Linked DNA regions of Homo sapiens. The protein of the gene in region 1 purifies or fractionates together with the protein of each later gene. This does not show direct contact. Each region holds a gene or a part of one and is shown in the gene's direction. Other genes may lie near its edges.

The links.
Region 2: the proteins of CXorf66 (region 1) and ANKRD50 purify together in Homo sapiens (affinity purification with mass spectrometry; one large-scale study listed by BioGRID and IntAct). This does not show direct contact.
Region 3: the proteins of CXorf66 (region 1) and LRP4 purify together in Homo sapiens (affinity purification with mass spectrometry; one large-scale study listed by BioGRID and IntAct). This does not show direct contact.
Region 4: the proteins of CXorf66 (region 1) and HEPHL1 purify together in Homo sapiens (affinity purification with mass spectrometry; one large-scale study listed by BioGRID and IntAct). This does not show direct contact.
Region 5: the proteins of CXorf66 (region 1) and MTHFR purify together in Homo sapiens (affinity purification with mass spectrometry; one large-scale study listed by BioGRID and IntAct). This does not show direct contact.
Region 6: the proteins of CXorf66 (region 1) and SERPINB5 purify together in Homo sapiens (affinity purification with mass spectrometry; one large-scale study listed by BioGRID and IntAct). This does not show direct contact.
Region 7: the proteins of CXorf66 (region 1) and DSG4 purify together in Homo sapiens (affinity purification with mass spectrometry; one large-scale study listed by BioGRID and IntAct). This does not show direct contact.

Annotation. Positions count from the first base shown.
Region 1 is NC_000023.11:139,959,022-139,962,521, reverse strand, and holds part of CXorf66 (uncharacterized protein CXorf66 precursor), read left to right. Parts: intron 1-3,500.
Region 2 is NC_000004.12:124,667,733-124,671,232, reverse strand, and holds part of ANKRD50 (ankyrin repeat domain-containing protein 50), read left to right. Parts: coding exon 1-2,246; 3' UTR 2,247-2,249; intron 2,250-3,500.
Region 3 is NC_000011.10:46,873,551-46,877,050, reverse strand, and holds part of LRP4 (low-density lipoprotein receptor-related protein 4 precursor), read left to right. Parts: intron 1-220; coding exon 221-307; intron 308-413; coding exon 414-585; intron 586-1,084; coding exon 1,085-1,247; intron 1,248-1,369; coding exon 1,370-1,595; intron 1,596-1,947; coding exon 1,948-2,251; intron 2,252-2,634; exon of another isoform or gene 2,635-3,457; coding exon 3,458-3,500. UniProt on the Homo sapiens protein: Mediates SOST-dependent inhibition of bone formation. Functions as a specific facilitator of SOST-mediated inhibition of Wnt signaling.
Region 4 is NC_000011.10:94,027,854-94,031,353, forward strand, and holds part of HEPHL1 (ferroxidase HEPHL1 precursor), read left to right. Parts: intron 1-3,500. UniProt on the Homo sapiens protein: Is a copper-binding glycoprotein with ferroxidase activity. It oxidizes Fe(2+) to Fe(3+) without releasing radical oxygen species. May be involved in the regulation of intracellular iron content.
Region 5 is NC_000001.11:11,799,465-11,802,964, reverse strand, and holds part of MTHFR (methylenetetrahydrofolate reductase (NADPH)), read left to right. Parts: coding exon 1-84; intron 85-1,548; exon of another isoform or gene 1,549-1,565; coding exon 1,566-1,804; intron 1,805-2,642; coding exon 2,643-2,753; intron 2,754-3,500. UniProt on the Homo sapiens protein: Catalyzes the conversion of 5,10-methylenetetrahydrofolate to 5-methyltetrahydrofolate, a cosubstrate for homocysteine remethylation to methionine. Represents a key regulatory connection between the folate and methionine cycles.
Region 6 is NC_000018.10:63,493,958-63,497,457, forward strand, and holds part of SERPINB5 (serpin B5), read left to right. Parts: intron 1-2,984; exon of another isoform or gene 2,985-3,500. UniProt on the Homo sapiens protein: Tumor suppressor. It blocks the growth, invasion, and metastatic properties of mammary tumors.
Region 7 is NC_000018.10:31,400,777-31,404,276, forward strand, and holds part of DSG4 (desmoglein-4 isoform 2 preproprotein), read left to right. Parts: intron 1-104; coding exon 105-244; intron 245-2,639; coding exon 2,640-2,858; intron 2,859-3,500.

The DNA of each region.
Region 1 (3,500 bases):
CAGAAGGAATGGTACCAGCTCCTATTTGTACCTCTGGTAGAATTTGGCTGTGAATTGTCTGGTCCTGGGCTTTTTTTGGTTGGTAGGCTATTAATTACTGCCTCAATTTCAGAACTTGTTATTGGTCTATTCACAGACTTGACTTCTTCCTAGTTTAGTCTTGGGAGAATGTGTGTGTCCAGGAATTTATCCATTTCTTCTAGATTTTCTAGTTTATTTGCATAGAGGTGTTTATACTATTCTCTGATGGTAGTTTGTATTTCTGTAGGATCATTGGTGATACCCCCTTTATTATTTTTTATTGTGTCTATTTGATTCTTCTCTCTTTTCTTCTTTATTAGTCTGGCTAGTGGTCTATATATTTTATTAATGTTTTCAATAAACCAGCTCCTGGATTCATTGATTTTTTTGAAGGGTTTTTCATGTGTCTATCTCCTTCAGTTCTGCTCTGATCTTAATTATTTCCTGTCTTCTGCTAGCTTTTGAATGAGTTTGCTCTTGCTTCTCTAGTTCTTTTAATTGTGATATTAGGGTGTCAATTTCAGATCTTTTCTGCTTTCTGATGTGGGCATTTAGTGCTATAAATTTCCCACTTAACACTGTATTAGCTGTGTCCCAGAGATGCTGGTACGTTGATTCTTTGATCTCATTAGTTTCAAAGAACTTCTTTATTTCTGACTTAATTTTGTTATGTACCCAGCGGTCATTCAGGAGCAGGTTGTTCAGTTTCCATGTAGTTGTGTGGTTTTGAGTGAGTTTCTTAAACCTGAGTTCTAATTTGATTGCACTGTGATCTGAAAGACCATTCGTTATGATTTCCGTTCTTTTGCATTTGCTGAGGAGTGTTTTACTTCCAATCACGTGGTTGGTTTTAGAATAAGTGCTATGTGGTGCTGAGAAGAATGTATATTCTGTTGATTTGGGTTGGAGAGTTCTATTAGGTCCACTTGGTCCAGAGCTGAGTTCAAGTTGTGAATATCCTTGTTAATTTTCTGTCTCATTGATCTGTCTAATATTGACAGTGGGATGTTAAAGTTTCCCACTATTATTGTGTGGGAGTCTAAGTCTCTTTGTAGGTGTCTAAGAGTTTGTTGTATGAATCTGGGTGCTCCTGTATTGGGTGCATATCTATTTAGGATAGTTGGCTCTTCTTGTTGCATTGATACCTTTACCATTATGTAATGCCCTTGTTTGTCTTTTTTGATCTTTGTTGGTTTAAAGTCCGTTTTTTCAGAGGCTAGGATTGCAACCCCTGCTTTTTTTGGCTTTCCATTCACTTGGTAAATATTCCTCCATTCCTTTATTTTGAGCCTATGTGTGTCTTTTCACGTGTGATGGGTCTCCTGAATACAGCATACTGATGAGTCTTGACTCTTTATCCAATTTGCCAGTCTATGTCTTTTAATTGGAGCATTTAGACCATTTACATTGAAGGTTAATATTATTATGTGTGAAGTTGATCCTGTCATCATGATGCTAGTTGGTTATTTTGCACATTAGTTGTTGCAGTTTCTTCATAGTGTCATTGATCTTTATATTTTGGTGTGTTTCTGCAGTGGCTGGTACTGGTTTTTGCTTTCTATATTTAGTGCTTCCTTCAGGAGCTCTTGTAAGGCAGGCCTGGTGGTGACAAAAATCCCTCAGTATTTGCTTGTCTGGAAAGGATTTTATTTCTCTTTCATTTATGAAACTTAGTTTGACTGGATATAAAATTCTGAGTTGAAAATTCTTTTCTTTAAGAATGTTGAATATTGGCCCCCACTCTCTTCTGGCTTGTAGAGTTTCTGCAGAGAGATCCTCTGTTAGTTTGATGAGCTTCCCTTTGTAGGTAATCTGACCTTTCTCTCTGGCTGTGCTTAACATTTTTTCCTTCGTTTCAACCTTGGAGAATCTGATGATTATGTGTCTTGGGGTTGCTCTTCTCCAGGAGTATCTTAGTGGTGTTCATTGTATTTTCTGAATTTGAAAGTTGGCCTGTCTTGCTAGGTTGGGGAAGTTCTCCTGGATAATATCCTGAAGTGTGTTTTCCAACTTGGTTCCATTCTCCCCGTCACTTTCAGGTGCACCAATCAATCGTAGGTTTGGTCTTTTCACATAGTCCCATATTTCTTGGAGGCTTTGTTCATTTTGTTTTTCATTCTTTTTTCTCTAATCCTGTTTTCACACCTTATTTCAGTAAGTTGATCTTCAATCTCTGATATCCTTTCTTCTGCTTGATTGATTTGTCTATTGATACTTGTATATGCATCACGAAGTTCTCGTGCTGTGTTTTTCACCTCCATCAGGTCATTTATGTTCTTCTCTAAATTGGTTATTCTAGTTAGCCATTTCTGTAACCTTTTATCAAGGTTCTTAGCTTCCTTGCATTTGGTTAGAACATGCTCCTTTAGCTCAGAGGAGTTTGTTATTACCCATCTTCTGAAGTCTACTTCTGTCAATTCATCAAACTCATTCTTTGTCTAGTTTTGTGCCCTTGCTGGAGAGGAGTTGTGATCATTTGGAGGAGAAAAGACATTTTGGTTTTTGGAATTTTCAGCATTTTTGTGCTGGGTTTTCCTCATCTTTGTGGATTTATCTACCTTTGATCTTTGAGGCTAATGACCTTTGGATGGGGTTTTTGTGTGGGGGTCCTTTTTGTTGATGTTGATATTATTGCTTTCTGTTTCTTAGTTTTTCTTCTAACAATCAGGCCCCTCTTCTGCAGGTCTGCTGCAGTTTGCTGGAGGTCCACTCCAGACCCTATTTGCCTGGGTATCACCAGCGGAGGCTGCAGAACAACAAAGATTGCTGCCTGCTCCCTCCTCTGGAAGCTTTGTCCCAGAGGGGCACTAGCCTGATGCCAGCCAGAGCTCTCCTGTATGAGATGTCTGTTGACCCCTGCTGGGAGGTCTCTCCATCCGGGAGGCACGGGAGTCAGGGACCCACTTGAGGAGGCAGTCTGTCTCTTAGCAGGTCTGTGCTGGAAGAATCCTCCTTGTCAGAATCCACTGCTCTCTTCAGAGCTGGCAGGCAGGAATGTTTAAATCCGCAGAAACTGTGCCTACAGCCACCCGTTCCCCCAGGTGCTCTGTCCCAGGGAGGTGGGAGTTTTATCTGTAAGCCCCTGACTGGGGCTGTTGCCTTTCTTTCAGAGATGCCCTACCCAGTGAGGAGGAATCTAGAGAGGCAGTCTGGCCACAGTTGCTTTGCAGCGCTGTGGTGAGTTCCACCCAGTCCGAACTTCCTGGCCTCCTTAGCACTGTCAGGGGGAAAAGTGCCTCCTGAAGCCTCAGTAATGGTGGACGCCCCTCCCCCCACCAAGCTCCATCATCCTGGGTCTACTTCAGACTGCTGTGCTGGCATCGAGAATGTCAAGCCAGTAGATCTTAGCTTGCTGGGCTCCATGGGAGTCGGATCTGCTGAGCGAGACCACGTGGCTCCCTGGGTTCAGCCCCCTTTCCAGGAGAGTGAATGGTTCTGTCTCACTGGGCTTCCAGGTGCCACTGGGGGGAAAAAAAACT
Region 2 (3,500 bases), on another chromosome or scaffold:
TAGCAGCAGCATACATGGGACATAGAGAGATTGTGGAACACCTACTGGACCATGGAGCAGAAGTAAATCATGAGGATGTTGATGGCAGGACTGCACTCTCTGTAGCTGCACTTTGTGTGCCTGCAAGTAAAGGGCACGCATCAGTTGTTAGCCTTTTAATTGATCGAGGTGCTGAAGTAGATCATTGTGATAAAGATGGCATGACTCCACTGCTGGTAGCTGCCTATGAAGGACATGTTGATGTGGTTGACTTGCTTCTAGAAGGGGGAGCAGATGTAGATCACACAGATAACAATGGCCGTACACCCCTCTTAGCAGCAGCGTCTATGGGTCATGCATCAGTTGTAAATACACTTTTGTTTTGGGGTGCAGCTGTGGATAGTATTGATAGTGAAGGTAGGACAGTCCTCAGTATAGCTTCAGCACAAGGAAATGTTGAGGTGGTACGTACTCTACTGGATAGAGGGTTAGATGAAAATCACAGAGATGATGCTGGATGGACACCTTTGCACATGGCAGCTTTTGAAGGGCACAGATTGATATGTGAAGCACTTATTGAACAAGGTGCTAGAACAAATGAGATTGACAATGATGGACGAATCCCTTTCATATTAGCTTCACAAGAGGGTCATTATGATTGTGTTCAAATATTACTGGAAAACAAATCCAACATTGATCAAAGAGGTTATGATGGAAGAAATGCACTGCGGGTTGCTGCATTAGAAGGGCACAGGGACATTGTTGAATTGCTTTTTAGCCATGGTGCTGATGTTAACTGCAAAGATGCTGATGGTCGGCCTACACTTTATATCTTGGCCTTAGAAAATCAGCTTACAATGGCCGAATATTTTTTAGAAAATGGTGCAAACGTAGAAGCAAGTGATGCTGAAGGAAGGACAGCACTTCATGTGTCTTGTTGGCAAGGCCATATGGAAATGGTGCAGGTCCTGATAGCATACCATGCTGACGTCAATGCTGCAGACAATGAAAAGCGCTCTGCTTTGCAGTCTGCAGCCTGGCAGGGCCATGTAAAAGTGGTTCAGCTTCTGATTGAGCATGGTGCTGTAGTTGACCATACATGTAACCAAGGTGCAACTGCACTCTGTATTGCAGCCCAGGAAGGGCACATTGATGTTGTTCAGGTCTTATTAGAGCATGGTGCTGATCCAAACCATGCTGATCAATTTGGACGCACTGCTATGCGTGTTGCAGCCAAAAATGGACATTCTCAGATAATTAAATTATTAGAAAAATATGGTGCATCTAGTTTGAATGGCTGTTCCCCATCTCCTGTTCACACAATGGAGCAAAAACCTCTACAGTCATTGTCTTCAAAAGTGCAGTCATTAACAATTAAATCAAATAGCTCTGGTAGTACTGGTGGAGGGGATATGCAGCCTTCGTTACGTGGTTTACCTAATGGGCCTACTCATGCTTTTAGTTCTCCTTCAGAATCTCCAGATTCTACAGTTGACCGGCAGAAGTCATCACTGTCAAATAATTCCCTGAAAAGCTCAAAAAATTCATCTTTGAGAACTACTTCATCTACAGCAACGGCTCAAACAGTGCCAATTGATAGCTTTCATAACTTGTCATTTACAGAACAAATTCAGCAGCATTCATTGCCACGCAGTAGAAGTCGACAGTCAATTGTTTCCCCATCTTCCACAACACAGTCCTTAGGACAGAGTCATAATTCACCAAGTAGTGAATTTGAGTGGAGTCAAGTAAAGCCCAGTTTGAAGTCAACTAAAGCAAGTAAAGGGGGGAAATCAGAAAATTCTGCCAAGTCTGGATCAGCTGGGAAAAAAGCGAAACAAAGTAATTCTTCACAGCCAAAGGTTTTAGAATATGAAATGACTCAGTTTGATAGAAGAGGACCTATAGCCAAATCCGGGACTGCTGCACCACCTAAACAAATGCCAGCAGAATCTCAATGCAAAATTATGATACCTTCAGCTCAGCAGGAAATTGGTCGATCTCAACAGCAGTTTCTTATTCACCAACAAAGTGGGGAACAGAAGAAGAGAAATGGAATAATGACAAATCCAAATTATCATCTTCAGAGCAACCAGGTTTTTCTTGGTAGGGTTTCAGTCCCACGAACAATGCAAGATAGAGGGCATCAGGAAGTGTTGGAGGGATACCCTTCCTCAGAGACAGAATTAAGCCTTAAACAAGCTCTGAAGCTTCAGATTGAAGGTTCTGACCCTAGCTTCAACTATAAAAAGGAAACACCATTATAAAAGGTAATATTTTGTCAACATAAAGAGTAAAAAACAAAAGTAGAGTTCCCTCTACTTGGAATGCTCTTTTCCTTGATCACAAGGCCAATTCCCTCAGTTAATCTCTACTCAGATGTCATCTGGGCCAGACCTGCCTCATCACCCCTTTACATCAGAATTCTCCTGCCTCTAGCACTCCTTTCCCCCTTGCGTGCATTATGTTATCCAAAGCACTTACTATTTAAAATACTTCAGATGTTTTCTTTATTATTTTTCTCCTCTGAACTAAAAATACAACCTTTGTGAGGGTAGGGTTTTCTATCTGTTCACTACTGTATTTCATGTACTTGGAATAGTGCTTGGACCTATGGTAGTTTCCCAGTAAAAATTTGTTGAATAAGTGAATGAACTAATGAATGAATGAATGAATATACTACTTATGGATCCCAGATTAAGAATTCTTTCCTATTCAGTTATGTCCTCCTTTTAAAAGAATTTTGATGGTGTCAGAGGGAGGGGCTGTTTCAAACTCATCTTTTTGGTTTGAATGCAATAATGTCTGTAGCACATAGTAGATAGTAAATATTAATTTCATTCCTTTTCACTCAGAAAGAAGTCAAAAACTTAGTAGAAGGTAGTTTTTATGATGACAGATCTCTTGAGACTCTTCTAAGTAATGTTTTCACACATAAGGCATAGACGTGAAAAATGATAAATGGATGTTTTTGCAATATTGGTATTTAGGGCACTTTATACCTGGATAAAATAGTCATATTTGTTAAATAAATTTTTTTTTCTCCTTCCTGTAACAAAGGATACTTCATTAATAATATAGGGGATGTTAGTGGGAAAATAGGTATGTAAGTTTTATATTTTAGATACTTTTTCAGAAGCTCATTTCCTGTATTGGAGATAAATCTGAAGATTTTATTAGGGGTCTTTCCTAGCATACACTGCAGCTATATTTATCCCACTTTGCTTAATGATTTTTCTTCCTCTAACAAAGTTATATATACTCTTTCCTTTTTGCTGCTTCTGTCTTTGTAAATATATTTTAGGGATATAATAGGTGAAACACTATTATAGATAAATTCCTCATATATTCTAATAATAAACAGCCTTCAATGTGAATCTAGGGGTGACCAAATGTCATTCAAAAATAATTTGAATAAAGTACTTAATTCAGTCCCCAAATGCAATTCGTTTTTAAAATAATTAGTTCTGATGGTGCACCCTTTCAACTCTCATGATATCTGTTTTAAAGGCAAAATATAA
Region 3 (3,500 bases), on another chromosome or scaffold:
AGCACTCTCTCTTTGGTTGTGAGAGCATGGTTTGGGGCCCTCTTCTCTCCGTCTCTGCCAAGAGCTATCCTGCTATGATATTTCTGCGTTTTCCTTGATTTCCTCTGCTAGAGGCTCCAGAGCTCTCTGACATGCTCTGGTGTTTCAAGACATGAATCAGCTGTGTGTGTCCCATTGTAGGCGGTGAGGGTCTAGGTTGAGCCAAGCTTTCCCTCTCCAGGAAAGGTGTACTGGTCTGACAGCACACTGCACAGGATCAGTCGTGCCAATCTGGATGGCTCACAGCATGAGGACATCATCACCACAGGTGGGCCTTCCTCCTAGCCCAGGGACCACCTGTCTGGCAACAGGGCTGGGGAAATAGCCCATCTGTTTTAAAATAGGAGCCAGTGTGCTCTTTTGACTTCCCACAGGGCTACAGACCACAGATGGGCTCGCGGTTGATGCCATTGGCCGGAAAGTATACTGGACAGACACGGGAACAAACCGGATTGAAGTGGGCAACCTGGACGGGTCCATGCGGAAAGTGTTGGTGTGGCAGAACCTTGACAGTCCCCGGGCCATCGTACTGTACCATGAGATGGGGTGAGAGCTGGCTGTATCGCACTGGGTAGTGTGGGGGGCCAGCTCAGCTGGGGTTATGACGGGGTAAAGGTGGGTAGTGGAGAGGAAGCTTGCATCACAGAAACAAGGTGACCTCCCTGGGGCTCTTCCACTCTCTTGTGACTTCTCGCAGGGTGACAGTACAGTGTAGAAGTTAAAAGCATGAGCCTTGAATCAGAATACCAGGATTGAAATGTTTTCATCATGTATTAGCTATATCACTTGGGTCCGGTATTTAACCTCTCTAATTCTCAGCTTCCTTACCTATTAAATGGAGGTGGTAGTGAAAATACATACCTTGTGGCCCTTATGAAGGTTGAGATAATGCACATGAAGTATTTTGCAAAGTACTTTGTCAAGCAAAAATTTTGCCTGACATACTGTAAGTACTCAAGTGTATCTGACATACTGTTAAGTATTCATGGTATGTGGTAGCTGCTGGAATAACTAGCTAATATAGCTAATATTCTTCCTCACTCAGGTTTATGTACTGGACAGACTGGGGGGAGAATGCCAAGTTAGAGCGGTCCGGAATGGATGGCTCAGACCGCGCGGTGCTCATCAACAACAACCTAGGATGGCCCAATGGACTGACTGTGGACAAGGCCAGCTCCCAACTGCTATGGGCCGATGCCCACACCGAGGTGAGAGCCGTGTCCCTGCTGCTTCCCAGGAGCCTGGGAAGATGGGAAAGGCCTGCCTAGGATCTCCATGGAGAGTTCCCAATCTGCTGATCACCACCCCCCACCCTCTCCTTCCTCTGCAGCGAATTGAGGCTGCTGACCTGAATGGTGCCAATCGGCATACATTGGTGTCACCGGTGCAGCACCCATATGGCCTCACCCTGCTCGACTCCTATATCTACTGGACTGACTGGCAGACTCGGAGCATCCACCGTGCTGACAAGGGTACTGGCAGCAATGTCATCCTCGTGAGGTCCAACCTGCCAGGCCTCATGGACATGCAGGCTGTGGACCGGGCACAGCCACTAGGTGAGAGTCAGAGGGCTGGGGCTGTGAGTCAGAGCCTCTGGCTTTCTGGGGCCATCTCAACATCAGAGATATATCCAGAGCACAGAGCTCCTTTACAGCCAGAAAGACGGTGACCTGTTTAAGCTCCCTTCCAGATTGGGCTGTGTTCTCTCTGGGTATGGCTGGTACTACAGCTGTCACCTTCAAAGGACTCCTGGAGATCCTCCTGCAGACCCTCCTTCTACCTCACCCTGCCAGGCACTGAATCCTGTCACTTAGAACAGCAAAGAGCCAGCCACAAACAACTGGGACCTTTGTAAGATTCAGATGATGTTCCAGGCTAGGTGTGAATACTTGTGCTTCTCATCACCAGGTTTTAACAAGTGCGGCTCGAGAAATGGCGGCTGCTCCCACCTCTGCTTGCCTCGGCCTTCTGGCTTCTCCTGTGCCTGCCCCACTGGCATCCAGCTGAAGGGAGATGGGAAGACCTGTGATCCCTCTCCTGAGACCTACCTGCTCTTCTCCAGCCGTGGCTCCATCCGGCGTATCTCACTGGACACCAGTGACCACACCGATGTGCATGTCCCTGTTCCTGAGCTCAACAATGTCATCTCCCTGGACTATGACAGCGTGGATGGAAAGGTCTATTACACAGATGTGTTCCTGGATGTTATCAGGTATGAGCAACACTGAAACCTCCAGAAGACACAGATTTGCTTCTGGTCGCCCATGGGTGAGGTTGTGTTCTGACCACTAAATGGATGAGTGATTTGGCACTTTGGATAGTGAGTTTTAATCCTGACTTGTTCACTTTGTAGTGTTGTCACTTACAGCAGAGTTTCAAACTTTCATTTGTTTAGAGATTATATGGAAGCCTAGTATGTAAAACAAACAACAACAACAAAAAAAACAGGTAAAGTCAGGGGACCTGGAGACTTTCACATCTACCATTGTGCCCTGAGGGAGCTCCAAGAATCCCCTAGGACTTACTGATGAGTAGGCCATATAACCAGTATCTGTATTGCAGTAAAGGAGCCCCAATCAAATGCCAAGTCTTATGGTGGTTTACAAAGCTGTTGTTTTTTATTTTTTCGTTGTTTTATTTTTAGTCTTTAAATTTGTGGCCCTAACACAGCTTAGGAATATGATGTCCTGCCACCAGTAAGAGTGGTTTACCATGGCAGATATTCTCACATGGAGGAACAGGGAACATTCCCCTTTGCTCTCCCCAAGGGATGTATTAGAATCTCAAACTGGGGACAGGTAGGCATATACAGTTTAGGGAAGTCCCCTAGGTGACAGTGACATGCTCCCCATTCTGAGGTAGAGTTCCCTCCTGCCCATAGGGCCTTTGCAAAAGTGCACAATTAGGGTCTGGCGTGGTAGCTCGCGCCTATAATCCCAGCACTTTGGGAGGCCAAGGCGGGAAGATTGCTTGAGCCCAGGAGTTCAAGACCAGCCTAGGCAACATAATGAAACCTCATATCTACTTGTATTTAAAATTGTTTTTAACTTTTAAAAAATGCACAGGTTGGTTTTGACAAATCTGCGTTTCTTATCATCACCACCTAGCAATCCTTGTCTCTTCCCAAAGGTATGTGGGGAATGATAAACTTGTCTTCTAGCAAGACATCCCCTGGCAACCGCCACTATGTCCAGTTAGCAGGAAATACTGTGTCCTCCTAAGAACTGGTTCCTTCATTCTGCAATTATTTTATTGAACATCTATCATGCTGGGTGCTGAGGAATGTACTCATAGATACCTGGTCTCTATCCCTGTGGAGCTTACAGTTCAGTGGGGTCCAGTTATGGGAACATGGGTTAAAGTTCTACTCTATTCTGGGTCAGTCTGGTTGCTCATCCAACACTGGGCTCTCCCCAAGGCGAGCAGACCTGAACGGCAGCAACATGGAGACAGTGATCGGG
Region 4 (3,500 bases), on another chromosome or scaffold:
CATCCAGATGGTATTAAAAATTATTAATCTAATAGGGAGGGTGCAGCTTCACCAAACTGAATGTGCAATCTCCGTCTCCACCCTTCCTTTTTCCAAGTGACATTTGTCTCAATCTCATCTTTTTTTCTCCTTGGTGAAGAACGTTCCTTCTCAAGCTCAAACAATATTTCTTGTCCTTATTGTGACTCTTATGATCTCACATGTTGGATCTGACCACACTCTCTGCTAACATTATTTTGCAGTTTATCTTCATCTTATATTTCCCTGCCCTCTACACAGACATGTGGGCTCTGGACAGTAGAGTTGGCAGTTAACATTGTAAAACTGTGTTTACTGTCAAATGCATGTTTTGCTTCCCAACTAGATGGTAAAACTCTTGCATGCAGGGACTGAGATTAATACATCTTGGCCCCAGTTTCTAGTTTTATGTCCCAGACATAGTAGATGATCAGCAATTGCTCCAAGGAAGCTATCAGAAAACATCCCTCTAAAAGATGCAGAGGTCATGGGATTGCTGGGTGGTTTATATCCCTGCAAGCTACGAACTCCTGAGAATCTAACCTGGAAGTCCAACTCTGTACTGTGTAGGGGATTCCCAAGGGCAGGTTTGTTCTGATAATGATTAATCTCCTCTGCTTTTGGAAGATATCTCCATCCACAGGATTGGCCCCAGGCACTGGCAATGTAATGTTCCAAGTCCCCATCTTGTCTTTAAGGCAGTTGTTAATGTTAACCTTCCTGGCCCCACTGGATTCTTTTGCAGCAGGAAGTAGACACCTCCTTAGCTTGAGTCAAGATGTTAGAATGCAGATTGAAAATGTTCTTGAGGAATAGTGATTGCTCAGCCCCTCGCCATGGCTACGTGATAAACAACAGATGGCTCACCAATGCAACATTCTAACAAATATACTCCATTTAAATTGGAGGTTGCTTCATGGGGATGGCTCCCTTGAAGTTACTTCCTTACTTTGTTTCTTGGGCAAATTTGCATTTTATAGAACTCAAAGGAGCTGGAGTTTCTGTTCTACTATTACAAATGCATAATATGTTCTCAATGGGTGGTTTGCTGTGTAGACACTAAAACAAACTACTTTCTCTTATTTCTATCCCTTCCCACTTCTTTTTTTACTTTCAAGCTTTTTTTCCTATTAGTTAAAAAAGTATAGGATCTCACTGTATTGCCCAGGCTAGTCTTAAACTCCTAGCCTCAAGTGATCCTCCCACCTTGGCCTCCCAAAATGCTGGGATTAGGCATGAGCCACCACACCCAGCCTCAACAAATTTTTATCAAATAGTTACTATAGTTTTTGTTTTGTGTGAAGTATCTTCCTAGGGCACCTTCATGGGTCAACCCTGTCCTACTCTTGATGTGGAGTCAGTGCAGGGGAAGAAGTCCTGGGACAAGGAGGAAGCTATGGGTTCTCTTCACTGTCTGAGCAGGAGGCTCCTCCTGCAGCAGAGGAAGAGAGGGTCTTGCAATAATAATTAAATGCCCCCACCCAGAAGTGACACGTGGCATTTCCACTCACAGCCAATTTGCCAGAACACTATGGCCCATCTAACTTGCAAAAGCAGAATCACTGTGGTCTTCTTTGGTTAGGAGGAAAGAAAAATTAGAATACGCAAGCCCTAAAAAGCTCTACTACAGGAATCATTTGGTGATCTTAGGAAAAAATACAGATACCATGGTCTTGCCAGTAGAAAGTCTGATTCCATTGCCCTGAAGTGGGGCCTGAGAATAAAAATTTGGCAAATGTTCCAAATGATTCTGATGCAAGTGGTACATGGGTGGACATTTGGGAACCACTGCTTTAGAAAACCCAATCCCCCCTTGGGGTGACTATTGGCTGTATAGGTGATAAGACTGATATGTGTCCAGGAATATGAAAAACAGTCAATGTATAACTCAGTGCCAAAATATGAAGCATACCATAAGTGCTCCAGTCCCTACAGGGACTCAGCAAACACTTCACTGCCCCTCCTGATACTTATTTTGCCTCTTATTTAGTGCCTTTGCCAGACAACTCATGGTAAGACCTGGTCTTGTGGAGGTGATGGAGAAAGGTCTTGGGCAGAGGTGGGGTCAGGACCTCTTAGCAGATTAAAAGCAGGAGTACATATGTGAAGATGTGAGCATGTGTGCTCCACATGCATCTGCATGTGTGTATACTTTTGTGTCTTCATGTGTGCAGTGGGAGAACAGGGTAGAGAAGTAGAGTCCAATGTCCATCCTTCCCTATAGGGCCTGTTGGAATGATAAGGTCCTATGAATAATAGTTTTGTATTATAGTTTTTACCCATCAGGCTGAACCCAGAGAGCATACCAGGGATTCTGAATCTAATCCTTGCTGTGCCACCTTACTGGGTGACCCATTGTCAGCTATAAAACTGGGCAACTCTGAGGCTTATTAGCAAGCTTGGGGATGACTCAGTTCTTCCTCTGCCTCTTCCTCTTCCTTCTCCTTTTGCACAGCCTGTTCAATCAGGAGTTGTATTCAGCTACTCTTTAACAGAATCCTGAAAAACAGAAGTGGTTTAAATCGATTAAAGATTTATTATTATTGCTTACATAAAAGAGAGCCAGAGGTTGGCAATCATCTGGGTCCCAGGTTCCTTTTGGCTCTCACTTGACCATTCCTAGGGTGTGACCCTCTTCCTCGTTATCTCAAGATGGCTGCTGGAGCTCCAGTCATCATGTCTACATTTCAGGCATGAATAAAGGGAAGAGAAGAGGAGAAAAATGGTGTCTTCCAGCTACACCTGGAGAAGTATCATTGAGTGACTTCTGCTTACATCTGATTGGCTAGAATTATGTCACATGACTATTCCAAGTTGCAAGCAAGTCTGAGAAATGTAACAGCCTCTATTATAAAGGTCCAGGGGTCAGGCATCCCAACTTTTATATCCCATTCTCTTGCACAGGGAAATGTAAGTCTTTGCCTTATAGAGTGGGAGAGGGCTAACTCTTGCTCCTGGGTAGACACATGCAGGCTTAGTGGATGCTTGGATACAAGAGACCCAGAATGTTCATACACAGTCCCAAGACTTCAGCCTCAATGCCTGAGAGGAGAGTTGGCAAGCCAGAGGTTGAGCAGGGATAGTGAGCAGATGCCATGCTCTCTGCTCCAGAGGCCAATCCCCTTGCAGAGCAGAACTCAATCCAACAACACCCTTTGTTGTGGCAGCTTTGTTTTTAGAAATAGAAGGCATGCAAGAGAATTTTGGCCCCTTGGAGGCCAAACAGCATGGGTCTTCTTTTTTTTTCAATAAAACGTGAGCTTGTTTTTAGTATTGAATTTGTAGGTACAGAGTAACCGCCCCTCCCCCTACAACAGTATAAAAGAGGATGAGTGAAAGTAAACTTCTCCTCCGTCCTCCCTCCCACCTGTGGCTTCAGTCTCATAGTCTGGAGGCTACACTTTGTTTCCCTGGTCACTTTCCAGATGTATTCTTTGCATATGGGTAAATGTGCATTGTTACACACACACACACACACACAC
Region 5 (3,500 bases), on another chromosome or scaffold:
GCGATTGGAATCTGGTGACAAGTGGTTCTCCCTGGAATTCTTCCCTCCTCGAACTGCTGAGGGAGCTGTCAATCTCATCTCAAGGTAAACTCATGCAAGGTTAAGGTGGGAGGCGGGAGTGGTGGTGCCTGGGGAGCAAACTGTCAGCCCTGAGGCTGGGCTGCCCTTTAACCCGGCAGAAAAAAGCAGCCGGAGGGGGCAGGAAGGAGAAGGCAGAGTGGGTCATCTGATCTGCAACTTCTCTGTTGCCTGTAAAAGTCCCTCCACAGTGTCAAGGTATTTTAGACACACTCTTCAATGGGTTAAAAATGTTGATTCTCACACTGTATTCTTTGAGGGAACTTGGGGGCTGGATCACGAGTGCAGTTTAGGAAGTCACAAAGCAGTGAGATTGTTTTCAGCAAGTTAGAAATTTGGATTATGCTTCTTGAACTCTAGAAATGCCAACTGAATTACATTAGCACTTCATGAATTGCAGTTTTTTTTTTAAGTTTATGCCTTTTACTGTATGCACGTCTCACGTGTCACTCCCAAGTTTTTGAAGTTTAAATGCACAAGGATGTTTAAATACACCGTTGATAGCTTGTAACACAAGTACTCGTGCACATCCAGGCTTTTTTTTGAGTCTCGTTTCGGAACTTGGCCTTGGTCTGCATAACTGTAAGCTGCTGCACAGGGCTTGGGGGGTGGCATGAAAGAAAGTGAGTCTGCTGACCCTCTTTCTAACTGTTCCTACAGCGAGGCTGTGCTTGCCACAGTTAGGATTCCCCTAACTCTCAATCATGATGTCTTAACTCACCTGAGATAATAAACAGGCAAGCGCTGTGAAAAGTCTGAAGTGCTGCTCTCACACAAAATGATAGCGCTGTTGTTGTGTCTTACCTCTGTAATAGTGATTATAACGGCACCTCACATATACTGAGTATTCGGTTTGTACACCAGGCACTGTTCTAAGTTCTGTGGAACCAGCTGCCGTCATATTCTCCTAGTGTTATGGTTTTTTGTTGTTGTTGTTGCTTTTTTTTTTTTTTTTTTTTTTTTGAGACAGAGTCTCATTCTGTGGCCCAGGCTGGAGTGCAGTGGTGTGATCTTGGCTCATTGCAACCTCTGCCTCCTGGCTCAAGCAATTCTCCTGCCTCAGCCTCTCAAGTAGCTGGGATTACAGGTGCCCACCACCACACCCAGCTAATTTTTGTATTTTTAGTAGAGATGAGGTTTCACTATGTTGGCCAGGCGGTCTGGAACTCCTGACCTCAAGTGATCCACTCACTTCAGCCTCCTGAAGTGCTGGGATTACAGGCGTGAGCCACCACGCCCAGCATCCTAGTGTTATTATGAAGTGGGTACTACTATCTGCCGTGTCTTATAAATAAGGAAACAGAACTCACAGAGATTAAGTAATGTACCCAAGATCACACAGCTATAAGTAGCAAAGCCAGGATATGAACGCTGATTGGTCTGTCTCCAACCTTCATTGATGCTTCTCTAACTCCCGGGCCCCATGGGAAGGCAGTGACGGATGGTATTTCTCCTGGAACCTCTCTTCAGAAACAAACCCCCTACAGGTTTGACCGGATGGCAGCAGGTGGCCCCCTCTACATAGACGTGACCTGGCACCCAGCAGGTGACCCTGGCTCAGACAAGGAGACCTCCTCCATGATGATCGCCAGCACCGCCGTGAACTACTGTGGCCTGGAGACCATCCTGCACATGACCTGCTGCCGTCAGCGCCTGGAGGAGATCACGGGCCATCTGCACAAAGCTAAGCAGCTGGGCCTGAAGAACATCATGGCGCTGCGGGGAGGTGTGGAGCCAGCACTCCCCTACACTCTGGGTTCTGGCTTTCCCGGAGGCCACTTGGTAGCCTGAACTTGGTTCCTGAAATGGTCCTTTACTTCTTCCTGGGCCCCACGCTGAGGATCCGCAGGATCCCATCCCCGCCAGTAGTGTCAGTAGGCATTGTGGGTAGTGAGTCATCCTGGGCACCACACACAGGCAGCCACCTCTTCCACCTCTTGACCTCGACATAGGAGTTCCGTCAGGAATGCAGTCGCGGCCTGATAACCCTCTGCCTTGCCTACACCACTGCATCGATTGCTGGCTGCACCCAGCACTTGGCCCAATCACAGAGTAACAGAGTATCCAGGAGTGAGAATAGCCGGTCAGGCCTCTGGTGCCCGCTGTTGTCAGGCCACCTAAGAGTGGGAAGAGGGAGCCTGATGGGTGGGATCCTATGGCCTCGTGCTCCCTACCACAAGACCCCTTCACTTGAGATGAGTAGAAAATTCTCCCAGGAGGCAGGAGCCCCAAGGCCGTGGGATGGGAGAGGGTGGCAGGCATGCCCAGGTAGAAGTAGGGAAGGGCTCTCCAATCCTCCAGGCACGGTGAGAAGCAGCGGTGGTCTCCTATTCTCCACCGCCAGCACAGGGTCAGCATGCAGTGAATATTGAACTGGTGGGCTGCTTTTTTCCCTCCTGCTGTCTTACCAAGTGCTAGAAAGAGACGAACCAAACCTAAATAATATGAAGTTTCTGCCTTCCAGGGACTCGCAGTCCTGGGTGTCGGGGCTAGGTAGAGGGAACAGAAAGGGTCTCTGGAGGTTGGGTGAGACCCAGTGACTATGACCTCCACCAACCCTGCAGACCCAATAGGTGACCAGTGGGAAGAGGAGGAGGGAGGCTTCAACTACGCAGTGGACCTGGTGAAGCACATCCGAAGTGAGTTTGGTGACTACTTTGACATCTGTGTGGCAGGTGAGTGGCTGGATCATCCTGGTGGCGGGGATGGAGCTAGGGAGGCTGAGATGCCCAGAGAGCCTGTCGGTGTTCGGTTCAGGACACAGTGATCAGGGGCACTCATGGGTCCATGCTGGATGAAGGACATGCAGAGGTGAACTGCACCATGTCCTTGCTCCTTTTGTATCACCCACTCCCCTCCTGGGCCTGCCACCATCGACCCCTAGCTTTTTGTTCCTCTGCCTGGCTGTGCCCTTAGCCTGCTTGGCCTTATTCTTTTCTTTAAAACGAAAGAGGGGTCTGGGCGCGGTGGCTCACACCTGTAACCCCAACACTTTGGGAGGCCGAGGCAGGCAGATCACCTGAGGTCAGGAGTTTGAGACCTGCCTGGCCAACATAGCGAAACCCCGTCTCTACTAAAAATACAAAAATTAGCCAGGTGTGGTGGTGCACGGCTGTAGTCCCAGCTACTCAGGAGGCTGAGCCAGGAGAATCTCTTGGACCCAAGAGGCGGAGGTTGCAGTGAGCCGAGATGGTGCCGCTGCAGTCCAGCCTCAGTGGCAGAGCAAGACTCCATCTCAAAAAAAAAAAAAAAACAACACCCCACAAAAGAGGGATATTTACTAACAGGATTCCAGAGGGCAGGGAACCCAAGATCAGGAGATGGCCTCAGACCTCACAAGGCACTGGAAGAGGTCAAAAAGCAAGGCCCTCCCTCATTCCCTCTGGGGCCACAGGGTCCCCCATCTCCGCTTCCCACTGCAC
Region 6 (3,500 bases), on another chromosome or scaffold:
GTCATTATGGGAAGAATTAAGGGCCTGTTTTGCAGGCCAGTCTCATTGATACTGTTGAAGTAAATATGTTAAATAATTAATAGAGGGTGGGCACAGTGGCTCATGCCTGTAATCCCAGCACCTTGGGAAGTCGAGGCAGGCAGATCACGAGGTCAGGAGTTTGAGACCAGCCTGACCAACATAGTAAAACCCCATCTCTACTAAAAATACAAAAATTAGCTGGGCATGGTGGCATGTGCCTGTAATCCCAGCTGCTCAGGAGGCTGAGACAGGAGAATGGCTTGAACCCAGGAGGCAGAGGTTGCAGTGAGCTGAGATTGTGCCACTGCACTCCAGCCTGGGTGACAAAGTGAGACTCCATCTCAAAAAAAAAAAAAAAAAAAAAAAAGAAATGGGTAAAGTACCTCTTTTGTAAATGAGATCAAGGAACTGAGACTGGAAATTTGACCCATTTTATTGGAAAACCCAGACATCTATATGATGATGTGATGTGGTCTCCGTGGGTGGGATCTGACTTGTGTTAGACTGGAAGCAGCACTTCAGTTAGTACAATACTTGAAGGTAGCTTAGTTACCTGTAGCTCCTACGCGTCAGTTCTAGTTTTCATGCTTCTCCCAGTAGTTAGAGTACTTAGCATCAATATCTTGTTTTTGCCAAATATAGTAGCACCTTCTTAATGCTAGCATCCATGAGGAAAAGCCCTGCAAGATACAATCTATGCCTGGGTTAGCCGGATGGCTTCCATTACTCTTTCTTTCTTTGTTCCCATGGAATTTTTATTCATACTCTCCCCTGTCCACTGCCAGAATTTGCTTTTCCACAGTGAAATCTGTTTACTTACATAGATCCCCTACTAGCGCATGGGATTTTTAAGGTAGGGACAATGCCTTATTCACCTCAGTGTCTACAATTTCTGGCCAAGTCCCTAACACATCAGTAGGTGCTCAGCAAATTTGCTGAATGAATGATCAGTCCCTAAGGGTCAGTTTGCTTAAACAATCAATAGCAGACAAAACCTGACTGGCCTTTGGGACTACCATGGTTTCCTATGCAAGACCCATTGGGCATTTTCACTGGGAGAAGACAATGATGACTGTTACTGCTCCTTACCAACTCAAAATATCCATGGGAGCTGAGGGATGGGTAGGAGGTCCTCCTAACTTCCTGAGTTTAGCTTCCCAACTGCAGTGGTCTTCTCAAAGCTGACTGCAGAGACAGGATTGACCCTGCACACAAGAGGTCTGTCTGAGATTCTAGAGACATAGCTTATGCTCTTCACACTCTTGTGTTTTGCACACACAGGTCCTTGAGTTTTAAGCATGGCTTTTTGACCTTCTCAGTATTGTCTTTTATCTGGAGTGGAAGTGGAACGTGACTTTACCCAGCCTCTACTGTGAGTTAGGGAGGGGTGTTGGCCCCACTGGCCCTGACGGCATCCACACAGCCTTTGCTGTCATAGAGTGACCCTTCTGGCTCCTTTGATTAGTGATTGGCTCTCCTCCATAGCAAGGGCTGGCAAAGGGTTCCTAACTCTGTTTAAGTGAAATCTGAAACAGGTTGCCAATGGTGCCTCTCTTCAAGACCCCAGAGCCAGCCTGGAAGGAACACCATGAAAATGTTGCAATAGTCAATGAGTAGAATGTGGACTTTTGTGTCAACCACACTAAGGGTCGTACTTTTTTCATTAAGAAAGTATTAACGTGTGTTTTTTGAGAAGGGAGGAAGAATGTGTGCTATTCCTTTATTCTTGCTATTAAATCATAAAGCTGGGTTATATAAGATCCTGGAAACTCAGCCTTTATGAACAGAATTAATAAAAGTTTGAAATGTCATTGATCTCTCAGTGTTTCACTTGATAAAGCAATAAAATGCTATTCACAGCTGCATGAGGCTACACCCTTCTTTTGAATGCAGATGCTATTACTTCTCCTTTGTTTTCTTTGAATTGCTTTGTCCACCCTAGAACTTTTTGAGTGACATTACTAAACCTTTTCTTATGCCCCGTGGTGTCTCCGGTAAGGGTTAGACTAAATTGGTGAAGTTATATCATTAAAAGTTTAGTATAGTACTTATTCTGATAAAGATATCTATCCATATATATCTATATTAGTATATATGTTGTATTATATTTTCTGGGGTAGATAGTCTTTATTTGGTCCTCTTTTCAGAAGATATGTCGTCTCAACATGTGTTTCAGAAAATAAAGTACCTGTAGTCAGTGCCGATAAGTGAAATTGATGACAGTTTTTGGAGGCCACAACTATGTGCACATTCAGAAACTATGAGCAGTCTAACCTGTTGGAGATTTTTAGACAAATTTCTTTAGGAGGAATATATTTTAAGACAATATCCTCTTTAGGAGAAATAAAGGGAAGAATTATCTGTTAACCTCCAAAGTAGTATGTTTTCCTATAATTCTGTTTTTGGTTACACATAGAGTTGAAGTCTTCCATTATTTATCAGCCAAATATTCAGTGAGAAACTACAAGCTGGGGTAGAAAATGAGACTTAGTTTCTGCCTTGACTGTATTCTAGTTGGGGTGGGAAGTGGAAAGACAATCACTAGATAATATTTCTAACACTGTGGCAAGTGTTAAAATAGAGGTATATACAAAAGTAAAATAAATAACGTTTAGCTCTGCTGGAGAGAGGTATTGGGGAAGGTTCAGCTTAGTATTTGAAGATACCAGATGCAAGTTTACTGGAGTATTATCCTTGCAGGCTTGATATGAAGTTTGAAATTTCTCCCCAAAGAGATTTAGTTAACAGGCAAATATCCCATGGGAGGTATATGTCAATAGGTTATACAACATTACTGTCAGTCTTTTACAACTTAGCGTGAATTAATTTTCCTTCAGGAAATCAGTCATCTCTGGAGCAGAGACAGGAGGCCAGGTGTTAATAGGAGCAAAGAGAAGAAAAGGCCTGGGCAGTGCTTGGACATAAAAGACCTGAACGATCAGACCCTTCCATGGGCTCCCTTTAAGAAGAGCAGGGAGAGACCAAGGGCTAAAGTTGGGAGACTGAGAAAATGCAGCCCACCGGGGCATTACTTATTTCTCCAGCTCTGATCCGCTGTTGTACTAGGGGTCTAATCCGGCCTGTGTCTGCCTCCTTCTTGAATAGCCCAGAGCATTCATCTAAACAGCCTTCCTACAGCAGCTCCCCACTTTAGGTGTGGCCAGACAGGAGTTCTAGACCAGGTTGTCTCCTGGGACATTGACACCGCAGCCAAGTTTATTGGTGCTGAGGCAGACACAGTTGGTGTGGTTGGTTCAGGGGCTAGCATTGGAATAGCGTTTGGCAGCTTGATCATTGGTTATTCCAGGAACCCATCTCTCAAGCAGCAGCTCTTCTCCTATGCGATTCTGGGCTTTGCCCTGTCTGAGGCCATGGGGCTCTTCTGTTTGATGGTCGCCTTCCTTATCCTCTTCGCCATGTGAAGCTCTGTGGGGGTCACCTGCCTGTCCCTGCTGCTGCGGCTGCACACCATTCTTGGT
Region 7 (3,500 bases), on another chromosome or scaffold:
CATAAAAACACAATATTAAAGTTTGCCACATTGTAGCTGTTACATGATTTAAAAGTACTAACTTTCATAAAAGCATGATAACGAACTTTTTTATTTAAAAACAGATATATCATAGGGCATGATGCAGGCAGCTGGTTAAAAATTGATTCAAGAACTGGTGAGATACAATTTTCTAGAGAATTTGATAAGAAGTCAAAATATATTATCAATGGGATATACACAGCAGAGATCCTGGCTATAGATGGTAAGAAAATTTATTTTCAGTATTTTAAGAAAACTAGTACTATTATATTAAATATTATGTTATTCTAATGCTGATATTTGAGTGACTCAGACATTTTTAATGGTGTATGCAAGACTTATGGAAAGCCCTAAACACCTTAAATCAAGAATTGAAGTCAATTAAAATCATAATTTACACTGAAGCCATAGTTTATTTCATCTACTTCCAAAACTGAGTTGTATATGGCTTACAGCATAAAAGTTAAAATATAATTCATCTTCTGATTATGACTTTGTCTCTTGAGTATGGCTAATCTCACTTGTAGGGTATGTTGGGAATGTTTACTTAAAGTAAGGGCTACGTGCTCTACAAAGTTCATTTGGGGATCACCTTGTGGGAAAGCAATGTCTCCAAGAATACAATTATTTTAGATCCATTAAAACTGAACTACAGTGAGAAGCTTGTGTGAGTGTTGCTTGATTAGACATATTTCCATAGTAAGATGCTATGGACCAAGAAAGCACAGATTATTCCAAATATAAGATCCATATTAAAAGTCATAAATACAGATGCACTGACTTAACTTGTAAGCGAGCCACCTCTCACATGGGTAAATCTGTTAAGCAGTCCTCTTGGTGAGCAGCAACAGGATTTGTTTATTTATCAATAGTTAATGATTCTATGAAGCAGTGCCTAGGAAACCAGCTGCTGTAGAACCAAACAAGAGACAAAGGTCAGGAACCACGAAGGAAGGGGAAAGACAGGCGTCCAAGATACATGCCTAATGTAAGACAGATACTGTAGGTTTGCATTGAGTTTATAGCTGACCTTTCCAGTATCAAAACAAAAATAAAGATAAAGAAGCAGCATAAAATTCAAAAAGAAACCATGATAAAACCAAACCAACTATCATCTGTACATCCTGGGCTTCATCCTGTGGCGGGTAAATTTTAACGCCTGGGTCAGTTTTATAAATAACATTGTCTTATTCATTATCAGTATTCTGGAAGCTCTAATTTGAAAATGGATTCTAACCATGTTGATTGCACCCTATGTTTGCATATTGGTCATATGTGAAAAATCTTCAAATGCTAGAATAAATAATTAGTCATTCCAAGCAAATAAAGAGAGAGAAAGTGCTGTCAAAATGTACCAAGAGAAACCCAGAAACAAAGCTGATTGTTTATTCACCTAAGCAGAGTGTCTGCACTGGCACAGAGCTATCTGAATGGTTGGAATAAGTTTGCTTCAGCACACACCATCATCAGGTGAAGAGACAGACCTCTATGCAGAGCAAACTTTACTGGGAAGCAAACACTATAAGCAATAGCTTGAGCTTTGGTTGCCAATCACAAGGTAATAGAAGAGCTACCAAAGATCAAAGAATGACAAATAAAACAATCTGTGGAATAATCTGATGCCTCTCGAATGAGAAGCTAAGTGAAATCGACATCCTTCATCTAGTAAAAACAAGTCCAATGCTGAATAGGGTATATAAACATATTATACAAAATCATATAGACTATAGGTAGGCTCTCAGTTTATTCTCATTCAGTTACCTCAATGACTACTACTTAGGCACACAGAAAACATCTGTAAAAGGAATTTATTGCTTTCTCAGAAAAGGACCTAGTAAGGTACCCCAGAGACGACAACGTTCTAGTTTAAAAGCGAGAAAGCTAAGATTCTTTTCAAGTTAAAAAGAAGCAAAAAAAATTCCGTATTCGCTGTAACAGAACATAGAGTAGAAAAGTGGACTAAAAAGCTCCTGGACTCCTAATCTTTAGTCTTTGGCCCTTTCTGATTAATTATACTATCCAAAAACTTGTTTCAAGTGGATTAGGGAAAAATCTAATAGACTTATATTTGTTTTCAGAAATGCCATTTCAGAAAGAAATAGCATGTAACAGATGCAATTAAAATAAACAGTGAGCACACAAGAAAAACACAAACAAGTATTTATTTCAGCTGTGGTTATTTCTACAAACACAGGACTCAGTGAGCATCCTGAATGGAGGTTCATAACTGACCTGGGGGTCTAATTTATGGGAACAGGGTGAGATTAGAAACCAGTAAACCTTCTCGGAGGAAGAACATTTGATTTTGCGCCTTAGGATGTGTCAGAATTAGCAAAATGAAATGAGGGTGGAAAACATTTTAGGAAGGGTGAAAAGAATGTGCCAGAGTCCAGAGTAAAAAAGAAACTTGTTTAAAGAACTCAAAAGAAGCAGTGTGGCTGGAAGGTAGCACACAAAGGGAAGAGTGACTTTGGGTCACTGAAGCGGGCAGGAACCTGTCAAGCCTCCCAAGTCACGTATATGTTTCCTACAAGTTCCATGGCATCATCAGGGGATATGAGAAAGAGTTTTCTCCCTAACACCATTTACCTCAACACCAATGACCCTTACTCTTTCAGATGGCTCTGGAAAAACAGCTACAGGAACCATATGTATTGAGGTTCCTGATATCAATGATTATTGTCCAAACATTTTTCCTGAAAGAAGAACCATCTGCATTGACTCTCCATCAGTCCTTATCTCTGTTAATGAACATTCTTATGGGTCTCCGTTTACTTTCTGTGTTGTTGATGAGCCACCAGGAATAGCTGACATGTGGGATGTCAGATCAACAAATGGTAAGTGAAACGTAAGCTTGTTTTTTGGACTTTAAGTCCAAAAGCAAAACAATTACCAAAAAATGTGGCAAGTCACTTAATAAAACATTCTACTTCTGTTTCCACAGTTCTTGCCATATTAACATTAAATGAAAAAAATATTTCATGTACACAGAGGATATTTGATAAAATTTTGAACTGAAATGAAATGAGTCAAAATGTTTCATTAATATTTAATTTACAAATAGTAGTGGATAAATACCAGTTTACCCATCATTTTGAGTAGGTAAAACGTTGAACCAATATTTATTCAGTTTAAAATAAACAGAACCCTTAACAAACTCATAAATTAAGAATGTCACAATTCCCTATTCTGAATAAATTCAGACAAATCACATAAATGTCTCTGAAACTCATATATCCCATAGATACATTTAAACATTTACTACTCACTTAGGAGCACATAAAATCAATTAAATTGTTTTTTACAGTAACTATGAGTTCAGACTTATTTTTAAGGGTAAAAATTTAAATCCAAATTGCTCAGTATTAGAGGAATGATTAAACAGAGTACATATTATTAAGATGTGTTAATATACAGCCATTAAAATTAGAATTATGCAAAGTATGTAGATACAAAAGAATGCATAAACCAAAGAAAGT